Homo sapiens: one gene and its partner. The protein of the gene in region 2 purifies or fractionates together with the protein of the main gene of each other region. This does not show direct contact. Each region holds a gene or a part of one and is shown on either strand. Other genes may lie near its edges.

Region 1 (7,747 bases), on a different chromosome or scaffold from region 2:
TCTTTTCTTTTTTTTCCCCCCACCAAAAACAGGAGTTTTGTCACCCAGGCTAGAGCACAGTGGTGAGAGCACGGCTCACTGCTGCCTCGACCTCCCGGACTCAAGTGATCCTCCCTCCTCAGGCTCCCGAGTAGCTAGGACTACTGGCATGCACCACCATGCCTGGCTAATTTTTAAAATTTTTTTGTAGAGATGGGGTGTCACTATGTTGCCCAATCTGGTCTCAAACAGCTGGGTTCAAGTGATTCCCCCCCACCTCGGCCTCCCAACGTGTTGGGATTACAGGCATGGACCACTGTGTTCAGCCTCAAAGCAATCTTTATTTGTATTCACACTATTATCAGTTCCCTTCTCTTAATCTTCTCTCCAGCCAGCCAATCTTTACCTCTTCGCTTCTTCCAAATGACAAAGGTACTCATAAGCCACGTTCTGACGTCTCCTTTCATCCATCTCCTCTGCAGTAAGTCTTTCATTATCCAGGACAGCTACAACATAAAAGAAAGAATGTAAACACCAGGATCTGTAGCCTTCCTGAGTGATAAAAGATTGCCACAGAATCAATTTCCTGCCACTCACCTAGAAAGTCAGGATAACTAATGAGTGTGTAGCCAGCCAGGTGTACTACAATGACTTTCTTAAAAAAAGAACTATGTGGTTTCAACTATAATCATCTTGACCTTTTTAAAAATGTATGATAATATAAATATGTACTAAGTTTCAGTGTAATCTTGAAAAATACTGTCTTGAGATTTTGGCACAAATCTGTCCCTATCTGCCAGAACTCCTTCTAAATACAGATCTGATAATATTGTTTCCCTCTTTTATTAATGACCAAAGCCAGCAGTTATTGAGACATAAGTGGCAGTAATTGTACGAAGCATTTTACACGCATTCTCTCATTGAAACCCCACAACAATCCTGTGATTATCACTCCTATTTTACAGACGAAGAAACTGAGGCTGGGTGAACTCAGCCCCATGGCAAATAAGTGACAGGGCCTGAATCCAAACCTGGAGAGTCTGTCTCCAAAGCCTGAGCTTAACCTTGAAGCAATCTGCTTCCTTCATGGGCACCAGGTGTGGAATAAATTCCTAACTCCTTGGGAAGGCATTCAAGGCCTTTCCCAGTCTGGTCCCAACTATTTTTGGAAACTCTCCTCTTCCCTTCCTCCCACCACTGTGCAGTCTACATCACTCAGTTCCCAACACAGTATCCCTCTACTTTCAATACCTTTGTTTATGCTCTTCCCTCAGGTCCTGTCTCTTGTTCCACATGCCCTATCAAACTTTTTTTTTTTTTTTTTTGAGACAGGGTCTTGTTCTGTCACTCCGGCTCGAGTGCAGTGGCACAATCATGGCTTACTGCAGCCTCGACTTTCTGGGCTCAAATGATCCTCCTACCTCAGCCCCAAGCAGCTGGGACCACAGGCATGGGCCACCACGCCTGGCTAATTTTTTTTTTTTTTTTTAAGAGATGGAGTCTCACTGTGCTGCCCAGGCTGGTCTCAAACTCAAGGCCTCAAACTATCCTCTCACCTCGGACTCCCAAAGTGCTGGGATTACACGCAGGAGTCACTATGCCTGGCCACCTGTCAAACTTTCTACACAGCATTCTTCAAGGCTCTGTTCAAATGTCACCTTCAGGCCAGGTGCAGTGGCTCACACTTTGGGAGGTCGAGGCGTGGGGATCATTTGAGATCAGGAGTTTGAGACCAGCCTGACCAACACAGTGAAACCCTGTCTCTACTAAAAATACAAAAATTAGCCAGTGTGGTGGCCGACGCCTGTACTCGGGAGACTGCAGGAGAATCGCTTGAACCTGGGAGGTGGAGTTTGCAGTGAGCTGAGATTGCACCACTGAACTCCAGGCTGGGCGACCAGAGCAAGACCCCCTGTCTCCAAAAAAAAAAAAAAAAAAGTCACCTCCCGTGCTCATACTGTCTTCCCCAGGCCCCTTCTCCTTACCTACATTACTCTGTATGGCTAGTAAGTTCAGCATCTTTTATCATTATTGCACCTTATAATCATTAGCTTGCACACCTGACTCTCTGATTAAAACGCTCTTTGGAGACAGGGCCTGATCTTACTCATCTTTAATTTCACAAACGTGGCACAATACCTCACGTATAACTGTTGATGCGTGAAATGTTGATCCTTTAAAAAAGAACATTATTCCCACAATATAAAATAAAACCGAAAACCTCAAAATCCCAAAGGGTCCTCCTTTAGCCAATCCTGCCTGCAGTTCAATGACGTCCAGGGCCGACAACAGAAAATGAGGAAGTCAGAGGATTTTCTGCTTCTTTTTTTTTTCTTTATTACTATTTTACTTTTGAAATCTTGAGGAGGGAACTAAGCCCGAGAAAACTGAAGTGACTTGCCCAGGACGGCACCTCGTAGCTAGCCTGGGACCGGACAGGTCTGGACCCTGGTCTATCCCTTGGGTCTACCCCGCAGGCAACACTAGGGCAGCGCCTTTCCACGAAACGGGCAGAGCCCGCGTACCCAGACCCCCAATCCCCGGGACACGCCCTGCGCGGTCATCCTGCCACCTCACTCTAGGCCGTCTTCCCCAATCTCGGCCGAGCCTGGGCGGCGAGAGGCGCTGGGTGGGGCTCCCCCTACCGCGGCCCCAGCTAAGGCGGGAGGCCTCGGGGGTCCTCTCCGCCGCCTCGGACCCCGAGGGGGCGCGAACCAGGGGCCTCCCCGCCCGCCGCCCGCCGCCCCACCGGGACGGCTCTTCCGGGTCCGAGCTGCCGGCAGCCGCCCTGCCCCACCCGCCCGGCCGAGCCCCCAGGAAAATCGCGCCTCGTCTGCAATTAGCCCAGCCCGAAGCCCCCGCGCCGCGGAGCCCCGCACTCACAGCCATAGTGCGGCCGGGCCACGCCCAGCCCGTCAACCTCGTCTGCGGCGGACATGGCGGACGAGCCCGAGTCTCTGCTGAGGAAGCCGTGAAACCTTGGAGGCGCGGACGGCGGTAGCTACAGCTCCTGCCAAGTGCGCGGGCTTGCCGGGGTCCCCGAGGCCCCGCCCCGTGCCGTCAGCCCCACCCCGCAGGCCCCGCCCCAGCGGCACCGCCCCAGCGACACCGCCCTGAGCGGCCGGAAAGAGGCGGGGCCAGAGTCACCGTGCCCCGCCCCTAACTCCGCCCCCTCAGCCCGGCCCCGCCCTGCATCCCGCTATGGTCTCCGTAGGCGGAAGGAAGAAGGTAGAGCCCATCCTCCAATCGGGCTCACGCTGAGCTTGCCCTGCCGGGAATGCCCGCCCAGGTTTATAGCCCCGCCCCCAAGGCCACTGCCCTATCCGCAACTCTAACCGAAAGGCTGCCGGTGTCTGCTGCCTGAAATCAAAATAGTGGGTCATCTCCCTTCTCTTGCCGGCCCAGCTAACCTCTGCACCAATATTTGGAGAAGACACCCTTTGAGGTGACCCAGGTTGTCTTGTTGGACACAAGCAGGCCCCAAACTGCCATGAAAGCCCTCCAACCCCACTCTCCGCAGTTTGGCAACCTGGCCTCAGTCCTCTTAGATTCGGCAGCAGTCACCAGATTACCCAGGTACCCAGGTATTTGAGATGCGGATGCTAAAGCCGAACTCTGTCCAAATTCCCTACCTTTGGATCCCTTGACATTGTTCTTTGCAAGTTCTTTTTAAAATAACTCTTTTCCCGTATCAGGGATGCCTCTGCCCCCTGCACCTTGTGGCTTGCCCTTCAGATATTGGTATTCAACGGTATTCTGTCCGCAGCCCTCTTCTGTTTATTCTTTTTTCTTTTCTTTCTTTCTTTTTTTTTATTTTCTTTTTTTTTTGAGACGGAGTCTCGCTCTGTCGCCCAGGCTGGAGTGCAGTGGCGCGATCCGGGCTCACTGCAAGCTCCGCCTCCCGGGTTCGCGCCATTCTCCTGCCTCAGCCTCCCGAGTAGCTGAGTCTACAGGCACCCGCCACCGCGCCCGGCTAAGTTTTTGTATTTTTAGTAGAGACGGGGTTTCACCGTGTTAGCCAGGATGGTCTCGATCTCCTGACCTCGTGATCCACCCGCCTCGGCCTCCCACAGTGCTGGGATTACAGGCGTGAGCCACCGCGCCCGGCATTTTTTTTTTTTTTTTTTTTTTGAGACGGAGTTTTGCTCAGTCGTTCAGGCTGGAGTGCAGTGGCGCGATCTCGGCTCACTGCAACCTCCGCCTCCCGGGTTCAAGCGACTCTCCCGCCTCAGCCTCCCAAGTAGCTGGGATTATAGGTGCCCGCCACCACGCCCAACTACTTTTTTTGTATTTTTAGTAGAGGCAGGGTTTCACCATGTTGATCAGGCTGGTCTCGAACTCCTGACCTCAGGTAATCCACCCGCTTCTGCTTCCCAAAGTGCTGAGATTACAGGTGTGAGCCACCGCGCCCGGCCCTCTTCCGTTTATTCTTTGCCTACTCAGTAATCTTTTCTACACTCGCCTATAACTGCTGAGGACCCCTCGATATGTATCACCAGACCAGATCGTCTGGAAGTCCCTCAGTATTTTCAGCTAATGAACACTTTCACCTGTGTATAGGGCAGACACTTCAAATCCCACGTGTCAAATACTGACCCTGCTCCTGCTATATTCTCTATTCACAGAAGTACTCAATTCCCAGTGGGAACACCCCAGGCTCCTTGCCTCGCACCCTACATCCAATCTGTGTTTATTTCTGAGATGTCTACTTTTGTCTCCATCCCTGTTGTGATTACACTGTAGTCGCCCTTCTGCCAACTAGATCCTCACAGTTATCAGGGTGTTCTCTCTAAAGTGCAAATGCAATTGTGTTTCTCTTTTTAAATTTTTTTTTCTATTCCTCCCTTCAAGATAATGGGCCAAGTTCAGCATGATTTAGCATGCCAAATCATAGCCTGACTCCAGATGTTTTGCTCCAGCTATTTTCAATGTATTCACTCTTCCTTCAGACTATTAAAGATACTTGAAAACCTGTAAGAACAAAACACCCCTGTAGAAAAGTGGGCAAGGGTTTCATTTATTAAGCCTACAAAGTAAAAAGTTATTTCATTCTTAAGCTTTTAAGTTCACTTTACAAATTGTATTATTCTATTTATAAGTCTAGCACATTTTACCAAACACTTTTCAGAAACTGAATGATTTATTTATTTCGGAGGCGGGGGGGTCACATTTTTATTGGGGGCCACAGGGGACATGGTCTTCTCCATGTCAATGGAAGTGCTTGCAGTTTCTTCAACCACTCCATGCTTGGGCCTTGGGGGTGGCTGGGCATGTCCAGCATGTTCCCATCATCTCGGAGGGGCACTGGGTTGTTGTGGGGCGTGGCCTAGTTGATCCTGGTGGAGTACATGGTATAGGGGCAGACTGGGGTCAGATTTATAGCTAGGCCCCCGATGGTGAGGAACAGGACCAGCACCCGCTCCTTAGGCCAGGCATTCTTGAGAAAGGCAGCCGCAATGGCAACGAGGACATAGAGCATTCTGAAATTTCCTGAAAATTTTTTTTTAAGTCTCACTCAGTTAATTCAACATCTTCAAATATTTAAAATTATGCCTACTAGGGCAGGCACAGTGGCTCACACCTGTAATCCGAGCACTTTGGGAGGTCAAGGTGGGTGGATCACCTTAGGTCAGGAGTTCGAGAGCAGCCTGGCCAACATGGTGAAACCCCCGTCTCTACTAAAATACAAAAAAATTAGCTTAGTATGGTGACACACGCCTGTAGTCCCAGCTACTCGGGAGGCTAAGGCAGGAGAATCACTTGAACCCAGGAGGCAGAGGTTGCAGTGAGCCGAGATTGTGCTCCTGCAATCCAGCCTGGTTGACGGAGCGAGACTGTCTTTTAAAAAATAATAATAATTGCCGGGCACGGTGGCTCACGCCTGTAATCCTAGCACTTTCGGAGGCCGAGGTGGGCGAATCACGAGGTCAGGATATTGAGACCATCCAGGCTAACACGGTGAAACCCCAGCTCTATTAAAAACACAAAAAAAAAAAAAATTAGCCGGGCATGGTGGCGGGCACCTGTATTCCAGCTACTCGGGAGGCTGAGGCAGGAGAATGGCGTGAACCCTGGAGGCGGAGCTTGCAGTGAGCCAAGATCATGCCTCTGCACTCTAGCCTAGGCAATAGAGCGAGACTCCATCTCAAAAAAATAAATAAATAAAAATAAAAAATAATAATAAAGAATAAATTGTGCCTATTATATTGTCTATATTAGATTTCCTATTACATTTTCTTTTTTTTTTTCTTTTGAGATGGAGTTTCACTCTTGTCACCCAGGCTGGAGTGCAATGGTGCAATCTCAGCTCACTGCAACCTCCGCCTCCCGGGTTCAAGGGATTCTTCTGCCTCAGCCTCCCAAGTGGCTGGAATTACAGGCACCCGCCACCACACCTGGCTAATTTTATATATATATATATTTTTTTATTAGAGATGGGGTTTCACTATATTGGCCAGGCTGGTCTCAAACTCCTGACCTTGTGATCCACTGGCCTCGGCCTCCCAAAGTGCTAAGATTACAGGCATGAGCCACCGCACCTGGCCTAGATTTTCTTTTTAGTTCATTCAATCGTATAAAACTTTTTCAAAACTTTTTTTTTTTTTTGAGACGGAGTCTCACTCTGTCGCACAGGCTGGAGTGTAATGGCACAATCTTGGCTCATTGCAACCTCTGCCTCCTGGGCTCAAGCGATTCTCCTGCCTCAGCCTCCTGAGTAGCTGGGATTACAGGCACGCACCACCGCGCCCAGCTAATTTTTGTATTTTTAGTAGAGACGGGATTTCACCATGTTGCCCAGGCTGGTCTTGAACTCCTGACCTCAGGTGATCCACCCACCTCTGCCTCCCAAACTGCTTGGATTACAGGCGTGAACCACTGTGCCCGGCCTAGATTTTCTTTTTAATTCATTCAATTGTTTAAAACTTTTTCAAAACTTAGTAATTCCTATAAATAAACATACAAGCATAACAAAGCTAACATTCTCTTAGATGGCCTGATTCCATGTGTAAACTTAGTAAGCTTTCAACTCAAAAACCTAAGTCTAAAACTAACTCAATTACACATTTAAAATGATTTACAAAAAAGCTGTCATTCAAGTCGGCCAAATTTTCTTAAACATTGCGAATACATAAAATGTGAAATATTTCTTCTTCTTCTTCTTTTTTTTTTTTTTTTTTTGAGACAGAGTTTCACTCTGTCACCCAGGCTGGAGTGCAGTGGCGTGATTTCGGCTCACTGCAACCTCAGCCTCCCAAGTTCAAGTGATTATCCTGCCTCAGCCTCCTGAGTAGCTGGGCTTACAGGCGCACACGACCACACCCGGCTAATTTTTGTATTTTTACTGGAGGTGAGGTTTTGCCATGTTGGCCAGGCTGGTCTCGAACTCTTGACCTCAAGTGATCTGCCCACCTTGGCCTCCCAATGTGCTGGGGTTATAGGCATGAGCCACCATGCCCAGCCGAAATATTTCTTCTTAACTCCAACATATTAATCCAATTGTTCATTCCATAAAGGCTTTCTTTACTTAATTACAAAGTTTGTCTGAGGTGAAAGCCACAGAGATGTTAAGTTACCAACTGCACTGGTACCTTACTATACTAAGTGTTGCACATTTATTTTCTCAGCTGATCCTTGTAATAATCCCATTATGTCCATTTTACACTTGGGAAAATGGAGAACTGGGTTACTTACCTGAAGCCACACAGCAAGAGGCAGAGCTGGAACTCAAACCCAGGCCTGTCTAATGACAAAGCCCAATTCCTAGTCA
Region 2 (7,731 bases):
ATCTGTATTTGTTCGCTTTTCAATTATAGTCATTAATAGCTCAAGAATTTTTGCTTTTGTACACAATAAAGCAGCAAGGTTGTATTTTGATTTTGAGGAGCTGAAGGCATTGGATCAAGAGTTAATTTTCTTCTTCTTTTCTGCTGTACAGAAATCATGTATAAACAGAGAAGGGAAGCCCAACAAACAAAAATGAGAACTATTATTCTACTAAAAGTAAATTTTGTGACCTTAATCTGGGGCAATCTGGTAAAAGTCAAAATCGCTAATGTTGTGACACAATGTTTAAGATTTGTTTCAAAATAATCTAGTTTGTGTGGGGGGATACAACATGAAACAAAACCGACCTTGGCTATGAGTTAATAATTGTCAAAGCTAAGTGAGTGACTAACACATGGGGTTCTCCATACTATTCGAGTTTCGCATGTTTTCCAGAATAAAAGGTTTTTAAAAAATGGTATTTAAAATACCATTTCCCTATTGAAATATGCCATTGTGATATGGCAGTATTAGACATGCTTTATACTGCTTGTATAGTTGTTTGCTTATGTGTTTTTTTTGTTTTGTTTTTTTGGAGAGAGTCTCTCTCTGTCGCCCAGGCAACCTCCACCTCCCGGGTTCAAGCGATTCTCCTGTCTCAGCCTCGGGAGTAGCTGGGACTGCAGGCGCCCGCCACCACACCAGGCTCAAGAGATAGTCTCCATCTCCTGACCTCGTGATCCACCCGCCTCGGCCTCCCAAAAGTTCTGGGATTACAGGCGTGAGCCACCGCGCCTAACCTGCTTATGGAGGCCTAGGAGGGTGGATCACGAGGTTAGGAGTTCGAGACCAGTCTGGCCAACATGGCAAAACCCCGTCTCTACGAAAACTACAAAAATTAACACGGCGCGGTGGCGGGCGTCTGTAATCCCAGCTACTCGGGAGGCTGAGACGGGAGAATCTTTTGAACCAGGGTGGCAGAGGTTGAAATGAGCCGAAATCGCGCCACTGCACTCCAGCCTGGGCGACAGCGTGAGACTGTCTCAAAAAAAAAAAAAAATTCAAACAAACATTTTAAATTACAAACAATGGTAAGACTGTCAGAAAATTCTAGGAAAATGTCAAAAACAAGGAGGCCACTTTGCCGCATGTGTGTTAAGAGATGGGTATAAATCAAAATAGTTTCAGTTCACTAAGGAAATTTAATGCCTAAAACAATCCTAAGATACAGGAGGATCACTCAGGTAAACACACACTCCTTACTCATATAAAATTGAACACCCATAAGTTGCATTTCCTTAGAGTACACCTATAAAACTAAGTACAGAATTTTTAAAAACCCAGTATGTTTTAGTAAAGTTGCTGTTCTAAAAATCCCACCTGTCACCAGGATAACCGAAACTGCTCCCTCTACACTCCAACTGTATTTTTAGTTTTTACCTCAACAAGTAGCAATGCAATTTACACTTGGTAAGCACGGATTCCTGAAACGCCAAAATCAACCGGGAACCTGATTTAACTCCACCACGCTCTTAACAATGAAAGCTACAAGCAGAAGAGAAGTGTGACCTTAAAAACTTCCACACAGCCGAAGAACAGTGGCAGAACAGACTGAAGCACGTATCTTCGCGGAACAGAAGAAAACTTCCACACAAGCAATACTGCAACACGGAGGCGGGGCAAGGGCTTAAAAGGAAAGTCAGCCAACAGGGAGGGGTGAATATAAGCAAAGCTTCCGTGAAAAAAAACTTATCGAGGTGTAGAGCAAGACAAGACAGACAAATTTTTCCATCTCCGTACACCCCCCTTCAGAGCCCAACACACAGCAAGTGCTCTAGATAGGTTTGCTCAACTCAAGGGAAGCTTCTGCCAGCAACTTTCCCAGAAATGGAATGACAAGAAGAAGCTGGATGATGGCGGGGCGGGGAGAAATGGACAGGTTGCTCATCCTGCGGGAGATGGTGAATATCCTGCAGTTGCCTAAGCGGAGATGGAAAGAAACAGCATCCATCGTTTACAGACTGTCAACTACAGTGTCCCAATTAAGCGTACGCCCCTTTCAGATGTTAACAACTGAAAACAATGCCCTGGCTCTGGACATGGGCACGCGGAACACTGCAGCCTCTAAGAAACCCAAACGGATAGGTAGGTCAACTTCTATCCACTCTGCCCATTAAATTATACCTTCATATCACGCTAATAAATTATGCAGACGGTTTACTGGGACACGCTGTGGGTCTGGCACTCTGATAAGCGCTTTACACGCCCCATTTCACTGAACCTTAAGAGGCAGGGACGGTATTAGCAGCCCCTTTTCCAACCAAGACACAAAGACTTTTTAAGTGTCTTGCCTAACGGGGCAGAGCCGGGTTCGGCACCCGTTTTGGACACCTGGGCCGTGCTCTTAACCACTAAGCTACAGACCTGGGCCGGCGACACTGAGAGGCTCCAGCCCTCGGGGACCTGAAGCAGGGACCCCCCCCCCCCCCCGCCTGCGCCCCAGCCCCGGGAATAACTTCGGCATCCCCGCGCGCGCCATGCGGGACGAGGAAAGGCGGCCGCAGCACCTGTTTGTGGCACCGGTGAGGGCTGGAGGGGATGGGGGCGCCCGGGGCCAGGCCTCAGGGCGCCCCGAGGCGAGGGAACGCAAGAGGACCCGCCTCCTCCGGGAAGGCCCCGCGGGCTAGAGAGAGGCCCGGGAGAAGGCGGAGGGGTGCGCGGGCCCGCCGAGGCCTAGGCCCCACCCGCCGCCCACCTCCCCACCGCGGCGGCGCCCGCGAGGGCCCCACCAGGCCCGGCCCGGCCCGGCCGCCTCACCTGGCTGCTGCTCCGAGCTCGTCCCCCGGCCGGCGGTCCTGGGCGGTGGCGGCGAGGAGGGGAAGGAAGAAGGAAAAAAGGGAGAGGAAGAAGGGACGAAGGGAGGGAAGAGGCGGAGTGGCCGTGGAGGAGGCGGGCGCCGCCGGGCCGGGGGGGGGAGGCGGTCAAAGGAAGCGGGAGCCGAGAGAGACGCGGCAGCCGCCGGCGCAAACGCTGAAGAGCCGCTCAGGCGCCCGCAGCCCGGCAGGAAGTGACGGGGGAGGGGCAGGCGCCCGCCCCCGGCCCCCGCCCGCCTCCAGGCCCGGCCCCGGCCCCACCCCCACCCACGGTCCGAACCACAAGTTCCGGCTGGCACTGCGGCGGAGCCTGCGCTCGCAAGGCACGCCGGGGGCCCAGCGGGAGGAGCGCCCTGTCCCGCCTGGACCGCAGCGGCCCGTCCTGAGTCCCGGGGCCTGCCGGGAGTTGTAGTTCTGGTGGGAGTTTCGCGCTGCCTGCTGGACTCGAAGCGGGTCTGGGAGAACCCAGCCTACCTTCTTTCCTCCTCCACTTCCTTTTTCCTTCCTTGCTGTCGCTTCTTCCTCTTGTCCTGCCTCTGGCCTTCCTTTCTCTCCTTCCTGCAGTTGTTTCTTCCTCCATCTGTAAATGTTCATTAAATGCTTGCCATATGCAAGGCATTGCTCCAAGAGCTAAGAATGTAGTGGTGAACTGACAAAAATCCCTGCCCTCGTGGAGCTTACATTCTTGTGTAAGTAAAATACACAATAAATAAAATTGAAAAATGTGTAGTGAGATAAAAGACAATGGCCCGGGCGCGTTGGCTCAGGCCTCTAATCCCGGCACTTTGGGAGGCCGAGGCGGGCGGATCACTAGGTCAAGAGATCGAGACCATCCTGGCTACCACGGTGAAACCCCCGTCTCTACTGAAAATACAAAAAATTAGCCGGGCGTGGTGGCGGGCGCCTGTAGGTAAACAGCTACTCGGGAGGCTGAGGCAGGAGAATCGCTTGAACCCGGGAGGCGGAGATTGCAGTGAGCTGAGATCGCGCCGCTGCACTCCAGCCTTGGCGACAAAGAGACACTGGTCTCAAAAAAAAAAAAAAAAAAAAAAAAAAAAAAAAAAAAAAAGACGAGAAGTGCCAGATTACTATTTATTTCACCCAGACCTAGATAAACTAAGTGGTTTTTAGCAGCTGTATTGTATGGGAGGTTGGAGAGAGGGTGGCCAGTAAAGAATCTTGGCCAGGCGCAGTGGCTCACGCCTGTAATCCCGGCACTTTGGGAGGCCGAGGTGGGCGGATCACCTGAGGTCAGGAGTTCGAGACCAGCCTGACTAACATGGTGAAACCCCGTCTCTACTAGCCGGATGCAGTGGTGGGCGCCTGTAATCACAGCTACTTGGGAGGCTGAGGCAGGAGAATCTCTTGAACCCGGGAGACGGAGGTTGCAGTGAGCCGAGATCACGCCATTGCACTCCAACCTGGGCAACAGAGTGAGACTCTGTCTCAAAAAAAAAAAAAAAAAAAAAAAGAATCTTGAACTTCTGCACACTCAGCGAAAATTATGCTCGCGTTGTGAGAGGTCCAAGAAACTGAGAATGAATGAAGGAACTGCAGGTGCACAGAGCTTCTCTCTCCCGCTCACTCTGGGACTGCCGCCCCACTATTTAAAAATAATTCTCTCTTTCTTAAATGTCTCTCAATCTAATAATTGCTCAATCTCTCTTGCCAACGGAATATAAATTCAAAATACGAGCTGCTGTGTCTGAAGAGGCCCCTCCAAACAAGGCTTTGGAGCCTTAGCGAAGCCTGGGAGGACACTTGCCTCCTTACATTGCTTCTTGTGAAGTGCAATGACACTGAATTTCAGAACACCAAAAATAGTCAAAGGACTTTCACCGTCCCTTTAGTGCCCATCCAAGACAGTAGTAAGCAACATTCAGATATTGTCCAGCCCTCTGCTAAAAGTGATCTTTTCTTTCTAACTTCCAAGCAGTGTGGATCCCATACCTCCTTGGGTAAAGGAGCAGATGCAGAGAGGTCTCCCTAAACCCAAAGCTGCGCACAATCAGACAATCTCGTCAAAGGTGATTTTGCTATCACCCATAGGGACAAAAGTGGTGGGTCTATGACTTCCAGTCTCAATTTTCTTCCCTCTTTCCTCCTTCCGCATCTTTTTTGTTTTTTTCTTGAGACAGGGTCTCGCTCTGTCACCTAACTAGAGTGCAGTGGCATGAGCACAGCTAACTGCAGCCTCAACCTCCTGAGCTCAAGAAATCCTCCTACCTCAGCCTCCTGAGTAGCTGGGACCACAGGCATGTGCCACCACTCCCAGCTAATTTTTTAATTTTTTATAGAGACAGGGTTTTACTAAGTTGCCCAGGGTCTTACTAAGTTACTAAGTTGACCAGGCTGGTCTCAAATTCTAGGCTCAAGCAATCCTCTTGCCTCAATCTTCCAAAGTACTGGGGGGATTATTCCAGGTGTGGGCCACCATACCTGACCAGGAGTAGGTCACCTAGATTTGTTTTCTTCTGTTTGTACCTAGAAACTATCAGTCAAGTTCTCTTCCAAGGTCCTGAAGACCTCTTGAGTCTTGCTAAGTAATTAAGGAATCATTTTTCTTTACCTTGAGAAAAAGATGGAAGCTGTGTGTTCTTGGTTCACAAGAAACTGTGAGCATTAAGTATGTTACGATAAATTATGTGTGTTCCTTCTCACAAGATAAATTATGTGCATCTGTACTAAGGAATGGGAACATGCAAAACTCATAAAAGCCCTGTGAGATGCTGAATTTTTTTTTTTTTTTTTTGAGACAGAATCTCACTCTGTTGCCCAAGCTGAAGTGCAATGGTGTGATCTCGGCTCTCTGATGCAAAGCTCATAAAAGCCCTGTGAGACATTTATTTTTATTTTTAATTATTTTTTTTTTTTGAGACAGAGTCTCCCTCAGTCACCCAGGCTAAAGTGCAGTGGCGCGATCTCGGCTCACTGCAACCTCCACCTCCCGGGCTCAAGCAATTCTCCTGCCTCAGCCTCCCGAGTAGCTGAGACTACAGGCGCTTGCCACCATGCCCTGTAATTTTTGTGTTTTTAGTACAGACGGGGTTTCGCCATGTTGGCCAGGCTGGTCTCGAACTCCTGGCCTCAGGTGATCCACCCGCCTCGGCCTCCCAAGGTGCTGGGATTACAAGTGTGAATGTTAACCTCTGATGAATTATCTGTTCCACTCTCATAGCCTCTTAGTAGAACTTTGCACCCTTATAATTTTCAATTATCTGTTGAGTATATCTATTAGGCTAGAACTAAGTGATCAACTTCCATGACAGCAGAGACTCAGCCTGTCTTAGTAGTCATGATGGTCCCTGGCCCATAACACAGTGCCAGGGACACAATAGTACATGATAAATTTCCGTAGACTGCTGAAAAATTACAGCCTTGCTTATCTCTGCGCAAGTCCCTAAGAAACAGGGAACACCTGTAGGGTTGATTGGTGTATGTCAGGGTCACCTGTGGTATGTGTAGCACAGGAGAACAAGGTTGAGAACTACTTGCTGGCCTAAATAAGTAATTCCCAAGCTTATTTGAGGTAGCCTGCACTCCTAGGGATATATCAGAATCTAAGAGCAACAATTAGAAGACATAAAAATATAATGGGGCCGGGCGCAGTGGCTTACACCTGTAATCCCAGCACTTTGGGAGGCCAAGGCAGGCGGATCTCTTGAGGTCAGGAGTTCGAGACCAGCCTGGCCAACATGGTGAAACCCCATCGCTACTAAACATACAGAAATTAGCCAGCCGTGGTGGTATGCAACTTTAGTCCCAGGTACTCGGGCATGTGAGGCAGGAGAATCACTTGAACCTGGGAGGCAGAGGTTTCAGTGAGCTGAGATCACGCCACTGTATTCCAGCCTAGGCAAGAGAGCGAGACTCCATCTCAAAAAACAAAATGAGGCTGGGCACGGTGGTTCACGCCTGTAATCCCAGCACTTTGGGAGGCCGAGGAGGGCAGATCATGAGGTCAGGAGATCGAGACCATCCTGGCTAACATGGTGAAACCCCATCTCTACTAAAAATACAAAAAATTAGCTGGGCGTGGTGGCAGGCACCTGTAGTCCCAGCTACTCGGGAGGCTGAGGCAGGAGAATGGCGTGAACCCAGGAGGCAGAGCTTGCAGTGAGCTGAGATCGAGTCACTGCACTGCAGCCTGGGAAACAGAGCGAGACTCCATCTCAAAAAAAAAAAAAAAAGAAAAAACAAGAGAAAAAAGATATAATGGAAGATCCCATTTACAAAGCAGTGGAAAAATAAAAATACCTAGAAATAAACTTTACAAGAAATATGCACAATCTGTGTGAAGAAAAAATGTTTAATTCTGCAAAAGAATACAGAAAAAGACTTGAACAAAGAGAAATACAGGTTATGGTATTGGCTAGGAAGGTTCCATCCAGATCATTAAGATATCAGTTGATCAAGACATTGAAGGACAGCCTGGCCAACGTGGCAAAATCCCAACTCTACAAAAAAAGTACAAAAATAATTAGCCGGGTGTGGTGGCATGTGCCTGTGGCCCCAGCTACTTGGGAGGCTGAAGTGGGAGAATCGCGTGAGCCCAGGAGGTTGAGGCTGCAGTGAGCTGTGATTGCACCACTGCACTCCAGGCTTGGAGTGAGACCCTGACTCAAAAAATACATTAAAATTTAAAAAGACATTGAATGAGATCCCAAGAAAAATAACAAACAGGATTTTGTTTTGGATCTCTATGAGCCATGTCTAAAGTCTTATGGAAAAATTAATAAGAAAAATAACCAAGAACTTTCTGAAAACTCCTGACCAAATAGCAAACATACTATTGGTAAAGCATTACCAATTAAAATAGTTAGATGCTAGTGCCTGATTAGTTCCACAATCAATGGAAGAGATATTTCCAGATAGACAC

What was found. Proteins that work in one complex are often made in the same cells at the same time.
Region 1: the proteins of STAU1 (region 2) and IQGAP1 purify together in Homo sapiens (affinity purification with mass spectrometry; 4 studies listed by BioGRID and IntAct, with this or other methods). This does not show direct contact.

The regions. Positions count from the first base shown.
Region 1 is NC_000015.10:90,383,512-90,391,258, reverse strand, and holds the start of IQGAP1 (ras GTPase-activating-like protein IQGAP1), read right to left. Parts: upstream 3,018-7,747; 5' UTR 2,918-3,017; coding exon 2,863-2,917; intron 486-2,862; coding exon 386-485; intron 1-385. UniProt on the Homo sapiens protein: Plays a crucial role in regulating the dynamics and assembly of the actin cytoskeleton.
Region 2 is NC_000020.11:49,185,320-49,193,050, forward strand, and holds the start of STAU1 (double-stranded RNA-binding protein Staufen homolog 1), read right to left. Parts: upstream 3,016-7,731; 5' UTR 2,797-3,015; intron 1,643-2,796; exon of another isoform or gene 1,420-1,642; intron 1-1,419. UniProt on the Homo sapiens protein: Binds double-stranded RNA (regardless of the sequence) and tubulin.